Linked DNA regions of Homo sapiens: all the other regions are linked to region 3. The links come from fine-mapping of genetic effects on gene expression. A gene starts in region 3. Each other region holds a variant in brackets. All regions are shown on one strand. Distances are from middle to middle. Region 1 has its middle 130 kb from the start of SLC8A1. Region 2 overlaps SLC8A1 (solute carrier family 8 member A1). Region 3 holds the start of SLC8A1 (solute carrier family 8 member A1).

What was found.
Region 1: its variant is fine-mapped to the expression of SLC8A1 in whole blood (INTERVAL, PIP 0.97).
Region 2: its variant is fine-mapped to the expression of SLC8A1 in whole blood (TOPMed, PIP 0.91).

What each region holds. Positions count from the first base shown.
Region 1 is chr2:40,574,958-40,582,264 of GRCh38, forward strand. No RefSeq gene overlaps it. Among named protein-coding and RNA genes, the nearest start is that of SLC8A1, 130 kb to the left of the region's middle. The variant C/T (reference allele first, on the strand shown) is at 3,857.
Region 2 is chr2:40,391,178-40,398,484 of GRCh38, forward strand. All of the region lies in intron 2 of SLC8A1 (solute carrier family 8 member A1), which reads right to left. It also overlaps the pseudogene LOC124905995. Among named protein-coding and RNA genes, the nearest start is that of SLC8A1, 57 kb to the right of the region's middle. The variant G/C (reference allele first, on the strand shown) is at 3,014.
Region 3 is chr2:40,448,540-40,455,846 of GRCh38, forward strand. SLC8A1 (solute carrier family 8 member A1) reads right to left here and starts at 3,551. Exons shown (of 11, transcript NM_021097.5): 1 at 3,365-3,551.

The DNA.
Region 1 (7,307 bases), 130 kb after region 3:
CTTAAGCCACTCAGTCTATGGTATTTTGTTATAGTAGCTCAAGCTGATATGCTACAAGTATTTTTTTCAATTTCTTTTATAAGATATCTGGACATTCTTCTTTATCCTAGCTTTCATGCATTAGAGTTGAGTTGTATCAATTATTTTTTTACCTATATTAAAATGTTAACATAATTTTTCTCTTTTTTATGTTTTTTTAATGGTTATACTGATTGATTTGGTTGTTAAACTAGCCTTGCATTCCAAGTATAAACCCACCTTGATCATGATGTATTTTTATTTTTAATATATTCTAATAAGAGTTTGTTACAGTTTTTAGTTTTTAAATTTTTAATGTTTTTTACATTTATTTTCATGAGACATTAGTCTATATATCTTTTTTCAATTTTTGGCATCAAAATTATTTTGACCACATGAAATAAATTGGGTAATATTTTTTCTTTTTTTCTGGAAGAATTCATGTAAGATTAGTATTTCTTCCTTAAACATTTAAGGTAATTTACTGGTAATGCTATATTGGCATCGAATTTTCATTGAAGAAAATCTTTAATTAGTAATGACATTTCATTATTAGTTATGAGTTTATTCAATTTTTCAGTTTCTCCTTGTGTCATTTTGTTATGTTTCTGGTGTACCTTACAAATTTTATCTAACTTCCTTAATGTGTAGGCATAAAGTTGTTCATAATATATTGTTATATTTTAGTGGATTTAGGATCAATATTTCTCATATTTATTATTTATATTTATTTTTCCTAATTAAACCTAAGGTTTTTCATTAGATTGTTATACTAACTTCTGCTATAATAGCTATACTCATTTATTAAAATAAACACTGTCTCCTTTTTATATGTGCATTTGTATATATTGTGCTGATTTCACTGATCTTCTTTGGAATATTTTGAGTTTTAAAAATTATTTCACTGTATAGTATATATTCTTTTTTGTGTGAATAATTTTCTAAATTTAAAAAAGTTAGTGAATTGGTTCTATAATTTTTCTTTCTAGATATAAATTAACATAATACCTACAGATTCCTACTTCTTCTTACAGCACCCCTTGGATACTTACTCAAATGAATCATATATTTATCTGCATATTTATATCCAGTGATTCTATGCAATTAAAATATATTTAAAATGTGTACAAAGTTTTAACGTTTTATTAGGCGGGGTCCGGGGTTGAAGCCTCATAAATTGATGATTGCTACATTCAGCAGAAAAATTGATTTAGTTGAAGGATATTACGTATCTCCAGGAGAAGGCTGAAGACTAGGTAGGGCTCAGGAAATAGGCAGGAATGAAGAGAAGGTGTTTATCCAGAAACAAAGTCACTGTTGTACCACAGAACTTATCTACTTAGCGTGCTGTTGTTGATCCTATAAATAGACATAGGAGGCCATTCTTGCTCCTGATGCCATTGGATGCCATATTCCACAATCGACTGACAGAATGAACTATAATCTATTCTTAACATCACTGTTCCTTGTCACTTATTCAATGTCTCAGGCAAAAGTATATCATCGGTTGAATCTGATACTTGCCTGCTTCTAGGTGCCAGGGAATAGAGAGAACAAACATTTAGCTTTTTGGATTCCACGAAGACTAACAGAGTGTGAAAATCCCTTTGATGGGGGTTCGGATTCTGGTCAGTCAAGTAATGTTACTAAATGACCATTTTGAAGGGCTATCCACTGGAATGGTGAAAATACGATGTAAAGTGTCAAACTGCTAAAGGAAAACATATATATGTCACAAATAAAGTTTAATCTAAGATGAGAAAGGAGATACATAAAAGAAATAAGGAACAATAAGATATTGTGGTGTATGTAGTGGACATTTTCTGTTTTTGACTACCTAAATCAATATATTCTGATTTTGATAACAGCATCTGGATTTGATCTTCAGAACGACCCTATTTTCCATGATTCAGGTAGAGATAACTCAACCTGCTGTGGTGGACTCAGGTTTGGGCTTGACCAGTCAAGACATTCTATCTCACTGGTGACCGAGATTAGCTCAGGGTTGGGTATGTTACTCATGTAGGGCAAATGAAACCCTTACAGAAAATTTTGGAAACTATTAGAACAAAGGAATACACCCATTTCAGAACAGTTGCATGTTTGTAACAGAATCTTCAAACTGCTTATAGCCGTCTTGATCCTGTGTAGGAAGATGCTGACTGAGAAGCAGGAAGGAGCCCAGTGAGAAGAAACCAGACATCAGAGATGGAAAGACAGATCCCTGACCATAGTCATTGCAGTTGATTACAGTCCTGCCTAAATTGGATAAGTCATAAGAAGGAAACTCTTTTAACTTACTAAAATATATAAAAGAAGGTTCAAATTCCCAACTGGCTTTTTTTCTTTTTAAATAGAATAAACAAATTCTAAAGTTGATTCCAAAAGAATTTGGATAAAAATAACCCAGAAAATTTGAAAACCCATATGATGATTAATAAATGTCAAAGCATAAAGTAATGCTGCAGGAATTAAAACAGTGTGGGTTTGGTGCTGGGACAAATTAATTAATGGGAAAGAAGGAAGTACAGGATATTTCATGCATAAATGAAATTATATGAAAAACAACTTCTTACCATGACATTTATGTCCCTTTGTGATCTGGTCCTTGTCAAACTCTTTATCTTTTCTCTCCACAGTCTGTCAGGAGAAGTTATAGTTGGAGCTGACAAAGAAGAAGAGGATAGCCAACTGGAGATTTTCAGTAGAAGTTCACAGCTATAACCCGTGTTTCAGCAGGGAGGGAGTTGGGGAGTAGAGAATAAGTAGCCTGACCCAACTGTTCTCTGTTCTTTCAATCTCCATCATATTTCTCATTGGCAGAGTCCATTTGGAAACTAGAAGGCAACAAGACTGGTTGAGACAATCCTTTAGGTAGTCCAAAGGTAGCTCTGGGGCGCAGAGCAGAGAAGATAAAGAAAGTGGAGTAGTACAAGGAAAATAATCCCTCAAGCCACCATATATCCAAATGATTTTCAACCTTCCTGTTGTACTTCTTCTCCTTCAGGAATGGTCTTCACAGATCCACCCCTATATCTGACTACTCATCTTTCAAAATTGAATTCAGTGTCCCTTTAAATTTGAGTCAGGGCCAGAAGTCAAATAAGAGAGTTCCAGGCCTTGGTATATTTTTCTAATTGCTTCACACCTAGAATGAAAGGTTTTTATTGAATTACTGAATGAAAGCTCCTGAAAGACAAGCAGGTACCAAGCAAAAAACCTGGAATTTATACTTTGGGGGCTACAGAATAAGGTAAACTTGTGGAATACTGTCAGTGTCCTCAAAACCAAAATAAGCAACCTTTATAGGTAGTCAAAGCCCTAAATTTGAAGGTAACTTTGCAGTTATTAAGGGTGAGAGGGGGATTGCTATAGATTACATTTAAACTCCTCAGATGTTTCTGATATGTTTCAACAGTCTATAGAAAAAAGACAATTCCTCAAACCCGTTCTCTAGAAAGCTTGAGTGTCTGCACAGTTCCTGGCCTGGACTGCCCTGTTATTTCTTGTGGGTCTTCCCTCTGCTGATAGTCTTGCTGATGATGCATGTGCGGTGGGCATGTTGGCATGATTCCTCTGGTTTTTAACGGGAGGACCCAGCATCCAAAAATAGAGTGACTTTATATGTAAATACTGAAGTAATACTTCTGGGAACTTGATAGAAAATTCAGTCTCCTAAGTTTCTTTATATTCCATTATTTTATTTGCTAAGAATATTATGGAAACTATTCCAGTATCCTTTAGTAAGAAGCTCATTAACAATGAATGAGTATAGTCAATAGAGATATTGTTCTGTAAGCAAATAGAACAAATTTTGCTAGGTATAATGCCAGGCTAA[C/T]GTCGTTTATTATACAACATATGCCTCAATTAAATTTTCATGTGATATAGTGCATGCAGATTTTCTAGGATAAACAGCGATGTTCAGAAACTAAAGCCTTAATATAGCGTGCTAGCAAACCCTGAGACAGCAAATCAATAGAATATTCAAGTCAAACAAGACAGTTTCAGACAAGGACAAAGTACTAACCTTAAATGTGAATGCATTTGCATTTATAAATGTAGCTTAAATCAATTTGTGTCTAATTTTCTTGTAATTATATCCTGATATTTAGAAATCATAAATATATTTTAAAACTCTTCTATTGACATTGTAATGATCTAAATTGAATTCAGGTTGTCTGGCCTTTATTATATCCTCAGTGATGTGATATCACATATGAACATGATGACTACAATTTATTCAGACTACAGTAGCAAGTATCAGTGATAAACTCTTGATTACCAAATTTTAAGCTCCCTGTATCTGTATTTTTTGTTTGGATTTCCAAATATATCCCTTCAGTTATTTTATTCTTAATTAAGATACAATGTACATATCACAACACTCATCTTTTAGTGATTTTTAGTATGTTCATAATATTGTGAAACCATCATCACTAATTCCAGAATATTTTCATCATCCTCAAAAGAAATTCCATACCCTTGAGCAGTCACTCCACACTATTCTCTGCCCCAACCCCTAGCAGCTATTTAATGCTGATTGATATTCTATGTATTTTCTTACTTTGGACGTTTTATATACATGGGATCCCATATTAGGTAGCCTTTTGTGTCTGACTTTTTTAGTTAGCATGATTTTGTCAAGGTTCATCCATGTTGCACCATGAATCAGCACTTTATTTATTTTTATGGTTGAGTGATATTCCATTTTATGGATATATCACATTTTGTTTATGCACTTGTCAGTTGAACATTTGGGTTGTTTCCACTTTTTGGCTGTTATGAATAATGCAACAGTGAACATTTGTGTAGATGGGATGCTTTCAATTCTCTTGGATATATGTCTACAGTGGAATTGCTGGATCATATGATAATTGTATGTTTATAATAACTTCTGTGGAACTCCCAGAGTTTTCTAAAACACTGCATCATTTTGTATTCCCATCAGCAAAGCATAAGGATTCCAACTTCTCCATTCCTTGCCAATACTAGCTATAATGTCTTTTTATTGTATCTATTCTTCATTCTTAAATTTAAAAATCCAATTAACCCATTAGAATATCATTTTTTTGTAATGAGTATTGACTATTCTAGATAACTGTTTGTGATTAAAGCTTTTTTCTCAACTGTTTTTATTAGTTTGAACAGCAAAAATGATATAACCTTATTATATTTATATTTGAATTATTTACTTGATTAGTTTAGCCATTCTTCTGACTTAAGGATGGTATATCACTTAATTTTGCATCACACATAAAATCACATCATTCTGAAAGAATCATCAAACACCAACACCCTAGATACTAAGTCTGGATTTGCAACTGGCTACTTATGTCATCTTTGACAAATTATATAAATTGTTCTTTGCCTCATTTTTGATATCTGTAAAACTAAGAAAATGCTAAACACTTGCCAAGAAATTGTAGGAATTTCATGAGTATCTTGATCTTCCATTGATTCTACAATAAGTTACCACAAACTTGGGGGCTTAAACAATACAAATGTATTATTATTTTATAGTATTATAGATGAGTATTCTGACAAGACTCTTACCAAGTTAAAATCAAGATGTGAGCATAGTGCATTCTTTTATACAGGTTATGGGTAAAATATGATTTCTTGCTCTTTTCTGGTTTTCAAGACTTCTCACATTACTTGGCTTATTATCATTGCCCGCCCATCCTTAATTTTCAAAGCCCGCAAGGGTAGATAGAGGCCTCCTTACACTTTCCTTCCTCTGGATTTCTTACAACACCAGAAAAGATTCTCTACTTGAAAGGATTTGTGGTTAGAGTGACCCCACCCAGATAACATAGGATAATCATTCCATCTCAAGTTCCTTAATCTTAATCACATCTGCAAAGTCCCCTTTGCCATATATATTAGTCTGTTTTCACACTGCTGATAAAGACATACCTGAAATTGGGCAATTTATAAAAGCAAGAAGTTTAACTGGACTCACAGTTCCACATGGCTGGGCAGGCCTCACAATCATGCAGAAGGCAAGGAGGAGCAAGTCACATCTTACATGGATGGCAGCAGGCAAAAAAAAAAAAAAAGAGCTTATGCAGGGAAACTCCCATTTTTTAAAACCATCAGATCTCATTCACTATCATGAGGACAGTGCAGGAAACACTTGTCCCCACAATTCAATCACCTCCCACAACACATGAGAATTGTGGGAGTTAAAATCCAAGATGAGATATGGGTGAGGACACAGCCAAACCATATCACCATGTAAGGTAACATATTCACAGGGTCTGGGGATTGGGTTGTGAATATTTCTGCAGGGCCATTATTTTGCCTACCACAATGAGATTATGTGTGTCTCATGACAAATACAGGTCCGACACTTAGTTAATTCTGGATATACATAATAGTACTTTTATTATTTAAAATAGGTACTACATGATAAAATGACAAAGGACACTTCAAAATGCCAAAAAGAGATGGATAACCAAATCTGAGAAGCTTTACATAAACTAAATATATAAATATTATTACTATTCCTCCAAAATAATTCCTCTCTTAGGATATTAGTTCAGCCAGGTAGGCTTCTATGTGCCAGATGATTTTCTTGGTATGAAGCCATTAAAATATACTCATTACCAGCCACAATTGTTTCACCTTTCCTCTGCATGGGCAGCCAAAATATCTCAGTGCCATTTGGATAGATTTCATTTTTGTGATCTAATCATCACAATTCATACTTAAAACTGAAGAAACACCAAACAGACATAAAGGAAAATATTATTGCTATTGCCACTATTTTAAAAAGTAGATTGTTGGCTCTGTCCTCTGTGATAAATCACATTTTTTCTTTTATTAATTCGCATCAATATCTGTAATTTCTGTAACTCTAAGACGTGATGTGTACCTATAGTTTTCTCTTGAAATGGGGAGAGTAGGCAGTAGTTTTTAGGGAGCAGAGACGTAACTTTCATAGTTGCAAAGGTCTCCGTTACGAAGTATGAAATCATTCTAGTTTCTGTCTTGCTTCTGTGCTCCACACACACATGGGTGCAAACATTAATACTTTCTTCAAAATAAGAGTAATTGCAGAAATTTCACTCATTTACAACATCTGGAATTAAAGAAGATTGAGTAGAATTAATCTAGTAAATGTTAATTGTCTTAAAAATAGCAGTCATTGCCACTACCACCACAGTAAAGAGTTTTCTGCTAATAAATTCCCATGCACCACAGGCAAATCAAATGCCATCTAGATAGTGGAGACTGCGGCCAAAGCAAATCACTTTATTAATGACATTGGAAATGTCAATTTCTAC
Region 2 (7,307 bases), 57 kb before region 3:
TGTGTATATATATTACACACACACATATGTCTGTGTGTATGTGTGTGTGTACATATGCACACTCACAAATAATTAAGTAATTCCATTCTGGGAGAAAGACTTTGAAGAAAAGCAGTTTATTTGCTACTCAGAAAGGGAAAGTGATGTTCGTGGGACATAAAGGGATTTGAATAAATAGGAATAAGTGTCCTTTTAAAAGAAAGCAGCATATGGAACTAGAAATACTTTCTGGAAGCTCTAATCTCCTATTTGAAGAAAATCCAATTGTTCTGGCTGGTGGCAAACTAGGAGATTACAGCTGAATTTCTCTCCCTCCATTCAATGTGAAGTAATCATAGAGCCATAAGGAATTTGACAGGAACCATAAATACTTCTCCTGTAAATCCCTAAAAATTTATAAGAGCATTATGACTTTCATGCTCTTTCTTTCCTAGAGTCTTTACTTCAAAGTCTTCTGAGACTAGAAGAGCCCCTGGAGCAATCATTCTGCTTCCATATCCACAACTTGGAACTCTTAGTCCCAGACCCTCAAATTATAGAACCTGAGGGAAAATTTAGGGGGCACTGAAACCAAATACCTTCACGTGTCAGATGACAAAATAAATCAGGTAGACAAAAAGTGTTAACCACATCACGCAAAGACCAAAACCCAAAGTTCCACATTTTCAGGCAGAGCCCTCAGCCTCATGTCACTAGGCTTCATTTCTACCAATATCGCCCCACTGACTAAATGTCCTTTGTCACTAGAATTGTTTAGTTCTGCATAAATACAAAGTATCGATGATCAAATTTGACTTATTTCTTCTCATTCAGTCCTTAAGTGGAAACAGCAAAATGCTGGTTGCCTTCTCTTAAAAAAACAAACAAACAAACAAAATAAGAAGGAAGGAGAAGGAAGGAAGGAGAAAAATAAAAAAGAAAGCGAGAATGAACAAAGAGTGAACAAATGAACCAACGGAAGAATGAAAAATAAAAGAAAGAAAAAAGAAAGGAAGAGAGGAAGAAAGAAAAGAAAAAAGAAAGAAAAGAAAAAGAAAAAGAAAAGAGAAAGAAAAAGAAAGAGAAAGGAAGCAAGCAAGCAAGCAAGCAAGCAAGCAAGAAAACCTAAAGATCTTTATCATCACATTTAAATAAGAGTAAATCTCAAGAGGCCATCTTATCTACCCGTTCCCACTAGGCATTACTCAACAGAGAACCAATAGCTAGGAACTTCCTCTATTCCTAAAGATTTTCAAGAAAGGAAGAGAAATATCTTGGGAAGTTTAGGAAACATAAATATTTAGGCTCATTTATTGATGAAAGTGGGCAAAATGAAATCATCCTATGCATCTTAGTAATACTATGTGGTATCACAAGCAGCTTGACATAACAGGCTGGTATCAATTGTCATGGGTAAGTGCTAATTGCTGAAGATCTACCAATTTGCTGTGTGCTTTTACTAAAAATATCTTTGAAAGTTCCACAGCCTTCCAAGATTTTGTATTCCTTGATATAACCTTTAAATTGCCTTCTTCACATTCCCTCTTGTTTGTTAGTAATGAAATGCCAATGATCACAGTACCGGAAAAAAGAAAACGGAGAAGAGGACAATAAAAAATCATGGTTATGATTTGTGGAGCAAAGGAGGGCTTTCAGCATTAATATTTACATTAATGTTTACGTTAAAGTGGGACAGATTACACTACTTTTTACTCACTTCACTTCTTCTTACCCTGCATAGAGTTAAATACTTACTGTTTGTGCCTTGTAAGAACTCTAAAGATTATAGTGTACTAGTAAATCTACTTTATTTTGCTGGCAGGAGTCAGCAGACAAAAGAGGAGCAGGAGAAATGTTGTCAAATCAATAGTGATACTGACTGAATTTTATCAGTGTTTCATCTTTAGCTGAACTATATGAACTCATTCAGATTTTAAAAAATATGTAAACTGTCTAATCTATTTTATAGCTCCGTTTTACAGAGTTATAACATGTCAAGAACAAAGTTACAAAATCCAAAACATACAAGTTAGCATCACCTCTATTTTTTTCTGAAAATTCCGAAAGTACAATGATTAGAACACACTTCAAACCTCACAGCTCTGTATTACTTAGGAAAAAAATCCCAACAGCTATCCAGTTGTGCTTTGAGGTCATTTCTCAAAGCATGTGCATTAAGAAACTTAGCAATCTATGTTTATGGTTGCTTTATCTGGTAGTATAATACAATGAAAATCTCACATATAAAATTTATAATGTGATATTTACAGGTTCAAGGGTGGAATTGCTATGTTCCAAATGATTTTCTGTCATCCCTTAGTTCACTGTTTCTTTAATCCTTTAAAACAATCTGTACAGCCTTTGCTGTAAAAGATTATTACATTCTTATTTCCACTGTGTAGTCATAATTTTGAATGTACTCTCTAATTTACCAACATTGTTTCCAATTCCATATAAACCCATATGAGGGTGCTCCCAGCAAAACTAATTAGGGGGATAACTGTGTAATGTGAAAAAATAAAGAATTGGAATATTATCCTTGTGTCATTTGATTTGCCAAAATTCAGCTTGTAACAATTAGATACTACAGTTGGAAAATTAGTGATTTTATTTATATAACAGGATCTGTCATAAAAGAGCCAAACTGGCAAAATCACTAATAGTCATAACCTAAATCACCCAATCAACCAAAATATTATAAAGTTCAGCTTTTATTTTTATGCCTATTACCCTTTTCATGGCAATGGGTTATTTCAAATACCCCACCACAAGCCCTGAGAACACAGCTGGGTTACTTGAAACCAGTAGCTCTAAACCAGTGGTGACTTGCCCCTTAGGTGACATGTGTCAATGACTGAAGACAGTTTTGCTTGTGGCAGTCTGGGGGATGCTACTGACATTTTGTGTAGGGCTCAGGAATGCTGCTAAACATCCTACAGTAGTGCACAGGACAGCCCCCCACAAAGAAGAATGACCTGGGCTAAAATGTCAACGGAGCTTAAAAAAAGGTTACTAGTCTAAGTGAGCTTAAGTT[G/C]AGAAACCCTGCACTAACATTAAGAACTATGTGTCCAACACGGTTGCAACATGTTACGCAAACACCTGCATTTTGTGGGGTGGGGGGTGAATACAGCCATTCTAGGGAGAGTAATTTGTTCTAACTTGGGTATTTCTGCCCAATAAGCTAGTAAGATATTTGCTTTTTCTAACGTGGATTCATCAGGGCACTGAAATTTAACTATTTTATTTAAAATATGGTATATACTATTTCTTTGTGGTTTTTCTGTTAGTGTGTGTGTGTGCGTGTGTGTGTGGTGTGTGAGTGAATTTCTGAAACAGAGCGGTAGCAAGCAAATGGCAGATTTGGTTTTATCATCAAGTTTCTGTTAGACATTTCGATAAGATTATACAGAGCATATAGTGGATGCCTACTACATATTTATTGATTTTTGAAAATAAAGTTTGTGAACCTATTTCTGCTATCTTCCTCTTTAGAGAACTGTGATTGCATTTTTCTTCTTTTTTTCTAACATGTATAGAGTGCCTGTTGCCATAGTAATCACTGATTTAGCACAACGTGTTTTTTCCTCCTTCTTTAAAAAAAAATTAGTTCCCATTCCTGCCAAAAAGGAACATATTAATCTACCCATCATGCTAGCTTGGGGAAGTTGAAGGCCACAGAAGTTGTCATTTGTGCAAAGACTCCCAGAAAGTCAGTTGTTAGCATCTTCTGTGCCAAGAACTCTACCCCAATCCCAGAGAGGAAATGAGACACTGAAGTAAAAGATTCTGGAGCTGAGGAGGTAACATCTCTCTTCTTTTCTGCAAAGTCCCACAAAAGATGTGCACAAATGCTCATGTCTGTGTAAACAAATTCACCTACTGATTATAGATTTAACAGACCACTGATGTCCAGAAAACAGGGACTAACTAGACAGTGCTCTTTAAGACAAAAGTTTACCTTAATCTACTTACTTCTGAGGGTAGGGGAACAACAACAAAAGCAACAACTAAAGAAACAAAAACCTTTTGAGAAGTCTAAAAGAAGTAGAGAAATCCTACTGAAGAAACCAACATCAACAGTTTCATTTCTTTATCAAATAAAAAGTCCGGCCTGAGTCTCCTGACTGACTACATTCTTTCTAGTATTAGGTAAATCAGATCTCAAATCTGATCTAGCCCTGCTATTCAGACCACGAATTCCTGTAAACATACCTATCTAGAACTGTGTGCAGGCCCCTCTTATGACAATGGTCTGTGCTCACCTGGATTTTTATCACTGGCACTCTTAGTCAGGACCACCAGATTCTTCCTAATTTCTCAAGTCAAATCCGAAGGCTACCCTGCTTGTGGTGTTCCATAACTCTGTCTGGCCCCTCATGAGAAATGCCACCTACTTGGATGAGAGCATTTAAGTCAGAGCAAGACAGCACAGAGGTTGACTTTAGGTTCCCATCTGACATATTTACTGTTCTAAGAGAGGAAAGGTAGTGGAAGAGAAAGAAAAACTAAAGTGGAACTGCAGGATTTCTGATTTTCAGAAATGTCTGCTTATTATCAGAGTGATAAGAACTCAAAATTAAGACATGGGAAAGGAAAAGATAGGGATATAGAGTCAGAGCTGTTCCTTAACCAAAGGCTTTACAGAATTAGAACACAGCTGACACAGGAAATTCAATGCAAGAAGGTCCTGCTCTAAATAAAAACAGATGAGGAGAAAGTCCATTCATTTTTACTAATAGTATGCATGGAGAATGAACACACGCTGCCTTTTACATAGACCCTTATAACTGTTCATACTGTTCTGTAAAATCAGCATATTTCTTATTATTTTCTTCTGGGAAAAAACACTTGGCTATGCATTTCCTTTTAATTTCATGGAAATGGGAAAGGGGTAAAAGGAAAGAAAGATAATACTTCCTGAAAACTTGAATGTTTTGCTGAAAACACCCTTAAAGGAATGTATCTCTGTCAGGGTAACAAAAACATTTAATAAAATATTTTTAAAGCAGTTGGTCTCTAAGAGAAAATGTGAGGTATATGTAATTAGTAGCAAATATGCATTCAATTGTACTAAGCATGACCATTCTTCCCCTTTAAATCCTCAATCCATGAAGTGTGTTTGTTAATTAGGCAGTAACTTGAAGAGCGCTGCTTTTCCCATAGAAGTCAGGTGCTCAACTACTCAACCATGAATCTCTACGGTTACATGAATCTATGAATGGTCTGCAAACCACTTATACTCCAGGTTTCAATTCTGCTGCCAGTAATAATAGTAATAATACCATCATTCTATTCTAGTAGCACAGTGCAAATTTAAGATAATTAGAAGATGATGATAGAAATTTGAAAGCAATGGATTACAAAACAAGACTGCATCAAAGCATAACACGCAACACAACACTTTTTCAATTATGTACATAACCTGGAAAAACTAGTTGGCAATGAAAAAAATGTGTTGAGAAGTACCTTATTAATTCATTAAATATTTCTGTAATCCTATGTTTCTTTAAAAAGAAAAAAAGATTACTAGTCTAAGTGAGCTTTTATCTTTGTTAAGCAGCATCCTTTTAACCTCCATCATCTCTAATAACTAAAAAAAAAAAAAAAAAAAAAAAAAAAAACAAGAGAAGTTAAAGAAGCAAACCAGCAAGAGAAACTGTAGTTGCTGTATCAATGACAATTATTCCAGTGATAATGACCTGACTTTTTGGGTTGGTCTTCTAGCTAGTCCACAGGGATCCACTGTTCAGGACGGTGTTAGGGGAGGTGGGCTTTGTCATTTTGCACAAGGTTTGACAGGTTTCAGGGTTTAAATCTGCAATTTCCATGGCCCTGGAAAAGTAATGTCTAAATATTGCTTAACTGAAAGTTGCTGATGAGAATATTTCAGTGCTCTGTGCAAAGAGTGGATCCGTGGATCAGTTAATTTTATTGAACAGAAAAAAGGTGAAGTATTGTTGTAGGGATTGAATGAGAACAGATACACAGTGTTTAAAGTAATTCCTGGCACATAGTAGATATCCAAGAAGGTGTCTGACTCCACCCCTTCCTTTTCTCTCTTTCTGAATTGTATTCCACTGTCAGCTGCTAGTGTATACATGTCATGAGCTAATGTGCCCATTGATGGTTTAGCTTATGACTTTCAGGTCAGTTTTCTAAGTTGATAAAAACAAGCATTATAGATAATAAAATTCAGAGGCAGTTCCAACATGGAATAATTGGCTTGTCTCATTCCATAGTCAAAGCTCATCTCAACTAAGTTTTCCATTGCTCACAGTGAGGACTAGGGAAGAGGAATTGCTGCAAATCCATTTTCACAGGTGGGTAATCAACACAAGAAGCACTGTCAACTGATTGTGGGTGTGAAACCATCTACGCACTTGAAAGTTTTCATGTTATCATTACTATGTATCCACATACATTTGCCGAGCCTGACCGTTCCAGATCAGTCTTCTGAATGCTAGCTGCATATCAGAACCACATATGTATAGTTTCATAAATGTGACAATACTCAGGCCCTACCCTGAGACAAGTGGCACAAAGCATTCAGAAGTGGAAAGGATTCTCACCAGGAGAACCACTCTGAGAATCAATAGAAACAGAGATCCAGGTCAAAGAAAAATATTATCTTTCTTCCCTGGGAATCACCAGCATTTGCACAGACTTCTACAACTAGCTACATGACCCAGGGCAATTTCTTAAAGTGGGACACAGTGTGCTCTGAATGCAGACCTGACACTAAATTTATCATGGTTGGGTAGCTGCTGCCTTATGGAGAATGGCCTGTGGGACACTGAACTTACACATTAAACAGCTGAGCCAACGGATGTTTCAACTGCCAGGAAAATAACAGAATGGGGAGACCCTCTGTTCATTTGACACCAGTGCCAGCTTGGAGAAACAGCATTTCTTCTGCAGTTATTGAAAGAAAGTAACCCAGAAGTACCCACAGTCTTTTAGCTCTTAAAATATGGAGCCACTTTTTCTTTTCCAGCTTATTTCCAATGCAAACCTGATTCCAGGCTCAAGAGAAGTACAACGTGCCTTGGTCCCTTCTCCCTAGTCTTGGTCAGCTTCTTCAATTCCTCTTGCTGATCTGGCCTCCAGTTTGGCTGGCTTTTTAGAGGAGTCTCTCAGCACTACCAGCAGAGTCTTTTGACCTATGTTACTAACGCGTGTATCATATCTAGATCCACTCCTCACCATATGTCATGGTACTGTCTTGTTCCTGGTTATTGGTGGTATATTTGTTTTTCTACTGTATGTAGTTAAATTTTAAGTAACTTAAAGAATTACAATAGCAATACAATTTCATTATAAAAAGCAGA
Region 3 (7,307 bases):
TACAGAAATCCACTGGTTTTGTTAGCCACCTTTACTACCAAGAATTAGAGCCAAAGTGATAGACAGCTAAGGGAACCATAAGTGATGTCAGATAGGATTCTGGAACCCAGAGAAAGTCAGGCAGAACGTTTGCCACAAGAGGGAGCAGTAGAATTTGGTCAGATGGGAGACCATTTGGTAGGGGTTATGATGAGGGGTGTATGAGGTATGGGAGGTTATGATGAAGGATTTAACTACAAGTATGGGTGATATTTGGATAATATTTTAGCAAAACACATTTATCCTTGGGGGCAAAAACAAAAAGATAAAGGGACCAGGAAGAGTAGAGAGATAATAGCATGTTGATTCCTAAATTCTTAGCAAATATAAAGTGACAATTTAATGTTTACTTGAAAGCAACATACTACGAAAATATAAAACATGCAACATATGTGCTCTAACAGCCTCTTCTAGAGGCTGCATTTCTTTTTCCAGATCTAATTTATATTTCAGTTTGAATTTTGTTTATTGCCATATTTTTAGGGCAGTCTCCTTCTTATCTATATACTATCCTCCCTGTACCTAAAAGGCATCACAAAGAAAGAACTTGTCTCACTGAATTGCAACATTAAAAAAAAAAAACAAAAAACAAAAAACAACAACAAAAAAAAACACACAGACATTAATGTCCCAAAATGCACTTACTTTGAGACAACCACATCTATGAGCTAAATGAATGCCTTGGCTGGCTTTTTAAAGGGGAATTGCAACTTCCTTGGATCTGCACAGCTTTTCTCATCATTTATTTTGTCAAAGAAATAGATTGAATACTAAGAGGAATCATGTGTTTATTTTGCAAGTAAATAAAAGTCTATATTTGCCTGGCAAAAGCATGTTAAACATAGCTTTTTAACAGATGCTGAAGTTCTCTTGGAATATATTTTATTTTTTCAAAACACAGAAAGCTTAACAGAGCAATTAACATAATTCCTGCAAATAGTCCTATAGATGTTACTGACTATACCTCACTTTCCATTTGTAATTTTATTGGGAGTCAAAGCACTGTTACTCCCATGCTCTTTTCTTCCCCTGGTCAACAAAAGGGCTATGTGCTTAATCTGAAACGTTACAGTAGGAACCACTATATAATAATATTAAAGTAAAGACATAGGTAGATAGATACATAGAAAATAAGCCTTCATATTTTAGTTCATTACTCTCCTCCTTCAGCCCTGTTAAGCTTTCAAGACAGTAAAGTCTGATTATCATGACACTCTTACATCCTTTGTAGCCCTATACAGCTCAACAATAAATAATGGTTTATCTCTGTTCAGTCCTTTTTGTTGCTGTTGTTTTTCTAGGAATTAATCATTTTTTTAAAAAAAGACAACAACCATTTTAAGGGGACAAAATCAGGGCTTCTTTTATAGCAGGTGTGAGAAATCTTAGCTAAAGAGCCGTGAGATCCAAATGGAATTCTTCAAGCAGGCAGAATTTGTAAAACGAAAACCATTTAAGAGCACACATCTTGCCTCTTGATGAAATAAGTTGGTCCTCCCCCACCTTCTCACTCACAAGGCCCCAAAGATGGAGCTAGTTTTCCCTTCCTTCCTCCTGCTTTCACACCCGCCTAACCTCCCAATTAAGCAAGTTTAGCAAACCCAGGGAGCTCAATCCAAGTAACACAGGATTTGAAAGAGGAACCTAAAACCAATCATCCCTCTTCCGGCTTTGTCTTCTTATTTGAAATGAATGAAACATCTAGATTCATTTTCCTTTTTTTTTCTGACTCGCTGCAGGAGTAGCTTTGAGAGAGAAAGAGAAAGCATGTGAGTGTGTGTGTGTGTGTGTGCACGCGCGCGCGCTGGTGGGGGCATGGGAAAGAGAGGTATACTTTCAGAATTCTCTCCTGGTGGCTCCCTCTTTCCCTTGGGAAATCTTCGCACAAGTCTCAGATTGTGCATGTTCAACTGCTCATATCTGGAGATACTCCAGCAATGCCTTTAACCAGATCTGATCAGAAATCTCCACCTACTCAGCTAGAGGCTCCTCCATGATCAGGACGCTTGTACTGTCTTCACCACATCTGTCATTTTTTAAAAAGCTTCTTCCACTACACCTCCCACTGATATCCTTTTTTTCTCTTTTTAGTCTTTACACCTCCAGCAGGACAAAGTTTGTATTGTTATATTCACAACCACTAGTAGCTGACTAGCAGGAGAGAGAGAGAGCGGCTTCAGGAGAGCCAGGTTCGGGGGCTTCAAAAGGATACCTAGCGCAAAGCATGACTTTCCAATGACTGCGTACAACATGCACATTGCTCTCTTCTAAAAATGCTTTGTTAAATTTCATCACCCCTGTTCTCAACTCAACCACTACCACTTTGGAGAGGGAAATACAAATTGCCAGCCCAAGCCATTCATCAAACAGCAACAGAATCCACGGGGTGGTGGGGGGGATAGAGAAGAGGCGGGGGTGATGCAGGGGGTGGATTTAAAGAATCAAGGATGCACACGTACTGTATTTTCAAGAGCATCGCCTGGGCGGATTTGGTTTCTTTGGCCGGCTGTCCAGCTATAAGACCGCCCTCTTCTTCATTAAGGAGGAGCCAAAAAGGATATCTTCACATCTCAGAACACAGACCATTTCCCCCAAGAGCCAGCAAAGCTCCAGAGGCAGAGAATGCAGCTGCAAAGTTCCCTTCCAATCTCTTGGGGAAAGATGCCTGTGTGTGCAGAATCCCCAAAGCACACCACGGCACAGTGCCCAGAGACGTGGACCCCGCAGCCCACTCCCTGCTACCCCCTACATTTCTTCCTCGTCTGTCTCTGCCCCGCCACACCTCCCTCCTCTCCGCAGTCCGTGGTGAATGAGCACCCAACGCCCGCTGGAAAACAGGGGGCTCGGAAATGTGGCCTTGGGGAAAGACCCCAGGGATTACCGGAAGGAGGGATGTCCGCGGAGAAGAGTCCAGTGGGTGGGGACGCCTGGATCCCCAGCAGCTCTGCATTCGGGGTGGACTTAGCTCTTCGCGCCCTGAATCCTCAGAGCCCAGCGCGGTGCAGGGTGCAGCATCTCTCCTTAGCAGCCCTTTCTTCCTCCGGCAGCCTGCACTGGCAGGCAGGCAGGCACCCTCACGCCCAGACGCACCAGCCCGAGCAATTTCACTCTGGGAAGCGCGGACACCCAGAAAAATGTGCAGGCGCGCACACACCACATCACACACACACACACACACACACACACACACACACACACACACACACAAATTTAGAAGCCGCTCGTTTGCCAAAGCAGAGGGAAGTGTAGCCTTATGAGCAGCAAATGGAAAATAGTTCTTGGTCTCTGACTAAATGCCTTCTGCCTGTCCATCATAAGATCCTACCTGGTTTGGGGAGTGTGAATGGATTCTTCCTCCGTTCCTCCACGCTAGTAGAAAATACGGCGCACTCCCTCCTTTTAAACAGCTCCCGATCAGGAAGAGGTCGCTCCCATCTTCTGTGGGAAGCACAAAGCAGGCGGCGGCGGCGGGCTGACTACCGTGCAGCGCCGGCGCGAGCGGGAGCCGCGGCAGCGGGCAGCGGTGCGCGCGGGCGGGAGGCAGGCGCGGAGGCCGGGAGGCTGGGAGGGCCGGGGCCCGGGCGCGCGCGCGCTCCCCCTCCCTCCCGCGCACACTCGCCCGCCCGCCGCCCGCAGCCTCGCACTCGCTCACACGCGCGCTCGGCCCCGCGGCTGCCGGGCGCCCCGGGGCCCCCTGCGCGCCCCTTGGGCTCCCCAGGCGATCGCGTCGGGGCAAAGCCGGCGCGTTTCTGGAGCACCGAGCGGGTGGGGAGCCCTTCCAGCCTCCCAGCCTCTGCCGGCGAGCAGCTTTTTCGATTTCCTGCCGGCTCTCGGCCCCGCAGTGCGTTGTGGCCGCGCGCTAGCGCTGTCTCTCGCACCCAGCCCATCGATGACACGCGCACACAGGCGCTGCAACTTTTCTTTTGAACCCTCTTCTTCTCTTCCGCAGACAGAACCCTGACCCCCAATTCGCCTACCCGTTTCTCACCTCTGACTTTGTTAATCCAACTATCTTTCTTCCCTCACTTCCTGCCCTTCTGCTAAAGGAAGCTTTCTTTTAGCAAAAGGATCTGGGCATATATCAATGATTTTTTTTTTAATCCTCACCCTGTGTTTTTCTACGTATCAGATATGCACAACTATACGTTGGCTACTAGATGCTGACACAAGCAAACAGAGATATTCGGGGGAGGGTGTCCCCCGGCCAAGAACTGGGACAGAGTCTCTGTGTTGGTATTTCCCTCAAAGATGCGTTTCACCTGGGAATAAAGACCCAGAGTCTGTTTCGTGTGAAAGGCGTGCTGGTTTTAAACTACAGTGAGGAGTAAAAGCCGAGCATTAAGGTTGAGTGGGAAAAAACCTAATGCAGCAATCGACGAACCATTCTTTGCCCTTTCCAAGAGAAGCATTATCATTGCCAATAAATCACTTTCCTCATAATTAATAAAGGAACACTGCACCAGGCCTTTCCTCTCTTGACAGCTCATTCATTCTTACAAACCCTTAATGACTTCACGTGGTGAAAGGCTAGACCTACTGTGGAGTTCACTAGCTTCCAAACCTGGCTGCGCATCACACACACCTGGGAATGTAGTCAGATGCTGTAGAATCTGAGGCCGAATCTGATGCAGACTCTCCCGTTGTAGGTCTCAAATGGGGCTCCAAATTAGTATTTTTAAAACACCAGTTGCTATCGGCCACTGGTGTCGTTTGCCAAGGTGTGTGGGGGGGTCAGGAGCAGCTACTTGGGGAAGGTGGGAGAAGGAGGGACCTGCAGAGCACAAGGCAGAAAGTTAGTTTTTTTTCGTGGAGACGTCCCCCCATACTTACAGTGCAACCAGGGCAGTCACCACGACTGATAGATTCTGACTCCAGGAACCTCAGTTTGCCTCCGCAACAAAGAGGGGGCGGAATGGAAGAAATAGCCTCTTCTGCCCCTGTGCCAGTGGCTCTCAACCCTCCTTGCACCTCAGAATCTCCTGGGCCGTTTTTAAAAATCCCAGTGCTTAGGCCACACCCCCAAACTGATTAACTTTGACTCTCTGCAGGTGGGCCCCAGACAGCCTTAATTTGTTTTTAAGATGCCTGGTTGATTCCTATGTGCAATGAAGGTTGAGAACCACTGCTCTAGGCCAATACTCCTCAAACATGAATGTGAGTATGAATCACATGGGGATTGCAGATTCTTTTTCAATAGACCTGGAGCAGGCCTGGGGTAGGCAAGTGTTGAAGTGATGCTGAGGCCGTCTGAATGAGGACCTCACTTTAATTAGTCGGGTCTGTTGCCAGCAGTCTTGGATACTGGCTTTGTAGAGGACACTCTAAGCTGCTTCACGTCTTATAAAATTTGCAGGAATCGTTCTTGCCTAAGAACATTTTTCTTTCCTTGCTATAAGTTAAATTTTCTTGGAAGCTACTTTCCACACCAACTTGGTTAGACTACACTTACTAGTGGATATAAACAGAATGACCTGTGGGGAGAGACAGAAGGTCACTGTCTCTTTTAGAATATGTCCTCTACCAAAAATTACTTAGAGTCCCTGAATTTAAGGCAGTGTGAGTAGCAGATATTTGGCTCACACTCAATGAAAGGGGCTTGGAGAGAAAAGTGGCTGCCTTCTAAATAACACTAAGGAAAGCTTATAACTAAAGACTCCACTCAATAGGAAATAGAACACAGCCAAATGAAGGAACCAAGAGAAAGCTAAATGAAAATGTGAGTGGGCCATATTTCACTGGAATAGATTTTGTGGAAAGAGTGTAGCCTCTTATTGCTATGACGGGCCGCTTAGTGAAAGCTGAGATTTTCTTGAAATTTTAGGCATGTTTGTGACATGGAGTGACAAGAACCCTGTTCTTTAAATGTTTATACTCCAGTGATGCCCAAAGTCTGTCTTAAGACTTTTTTTTTTTTTTTTTTTGCTTTGACCATTGAAACTGAAAGGCTACATCTTGGCCACTTGATTCTTCCTCTTTTCCAATCGAAACTGCTTTTAGACTGATTTGGATTCTTGGGAAAAAAACAATATTAAATGGTCTTCTGTTTATCTAGAACTATTGGAGAGGCAGCCTAGTGCCTAGTGATTTGGCATCCTTTTTGGTTCAGTCAGTTTCTGAGCCCCTAATTTTCTTTGCCTTTCATTTCTCTTTAAAGGCATTTTTATAATGGTTCCAGGGCCCCAAGGCAAATCAAACCTTTTGCTCCCTCCTAAATGTCATACATGAGTGAGTTTTTATTGCGAGAATTATCAAAGGCTGCATCACAGGCACAAGGCTGAGGAAGACTATGGCTCTAAGAAAGGAAAAAGTGAGGCTGCTGCAGTCTGTGGCTTTGGAAAGAAGACATGTTGAATGGAGGAAGGTGGTAATTTACATTCTAATAGCAGTAATGTTTCTTAATTGCAGTCTTCCATATTGATTGCCATTCTTTCCTCTGGACTTGGAATTAAGAGTCACCGGGTCTCCACTGTTATCTAACCAAAGCAATACGACACAACCATTCAGGGGACTCCACAGGGATATCACTAAGATTTGATATATTCGAAAGATGTTCTGATGTTCACAAACTATTTCCTAGGAAACCTTCAGGGGATCTGTTAGCAAACTCATTTTCAGACCAAGTGTAAATATTGTGAATTAGGCCCTACTTTTTATCTAGTCTATAGAAAATTTAGACATGTGATCAGGTTACCAAGATTTTTAAAAATATTTAATACTTTACTAAAGCACTCAATATGTTTTCATCATAGGGAAAACAAGCACAATACTCTGTTTAAATTCCTTTCATTTTTACTTTGAATTACATAAATCAGAGGTACCTCTATTGTCTCTTCCATTGCTTCGGGCTTCTGAAATATGTTAATACAGTCTTAGTCGTCCCTCACCTCATTTCTTACTCTGCCAGCCTTCACTAATCACCTATCTGTTCAGTCACAGGCTCAGTTTCATAGTGATTTCTACATAAGAAAATGTTATTACATAATAGCCCCTAGCCTGGCCAGTGAGTGGAGCTTAGAATTAGCCATTTTTCCATACCTAAGAATCTCAGGTGAACCATTGGGTTCCCAGTTTTGTTCTTTAGGTTTTCTTTGCTGATGAGTAGATCCAGGGTTCTTTGCTTTGGGGATGACTTTGAGAATTCTTTGTTGACTTCTAAGTGCTGTTGTTCCTCTTCCCTGGAGACTTGTTCCTGCAGTTAAACTTTTACTTCTCTGTTTTGTTTTGACCAACTGAACACCACTCTTGTACCTCACCCAGTTGTAAACCCT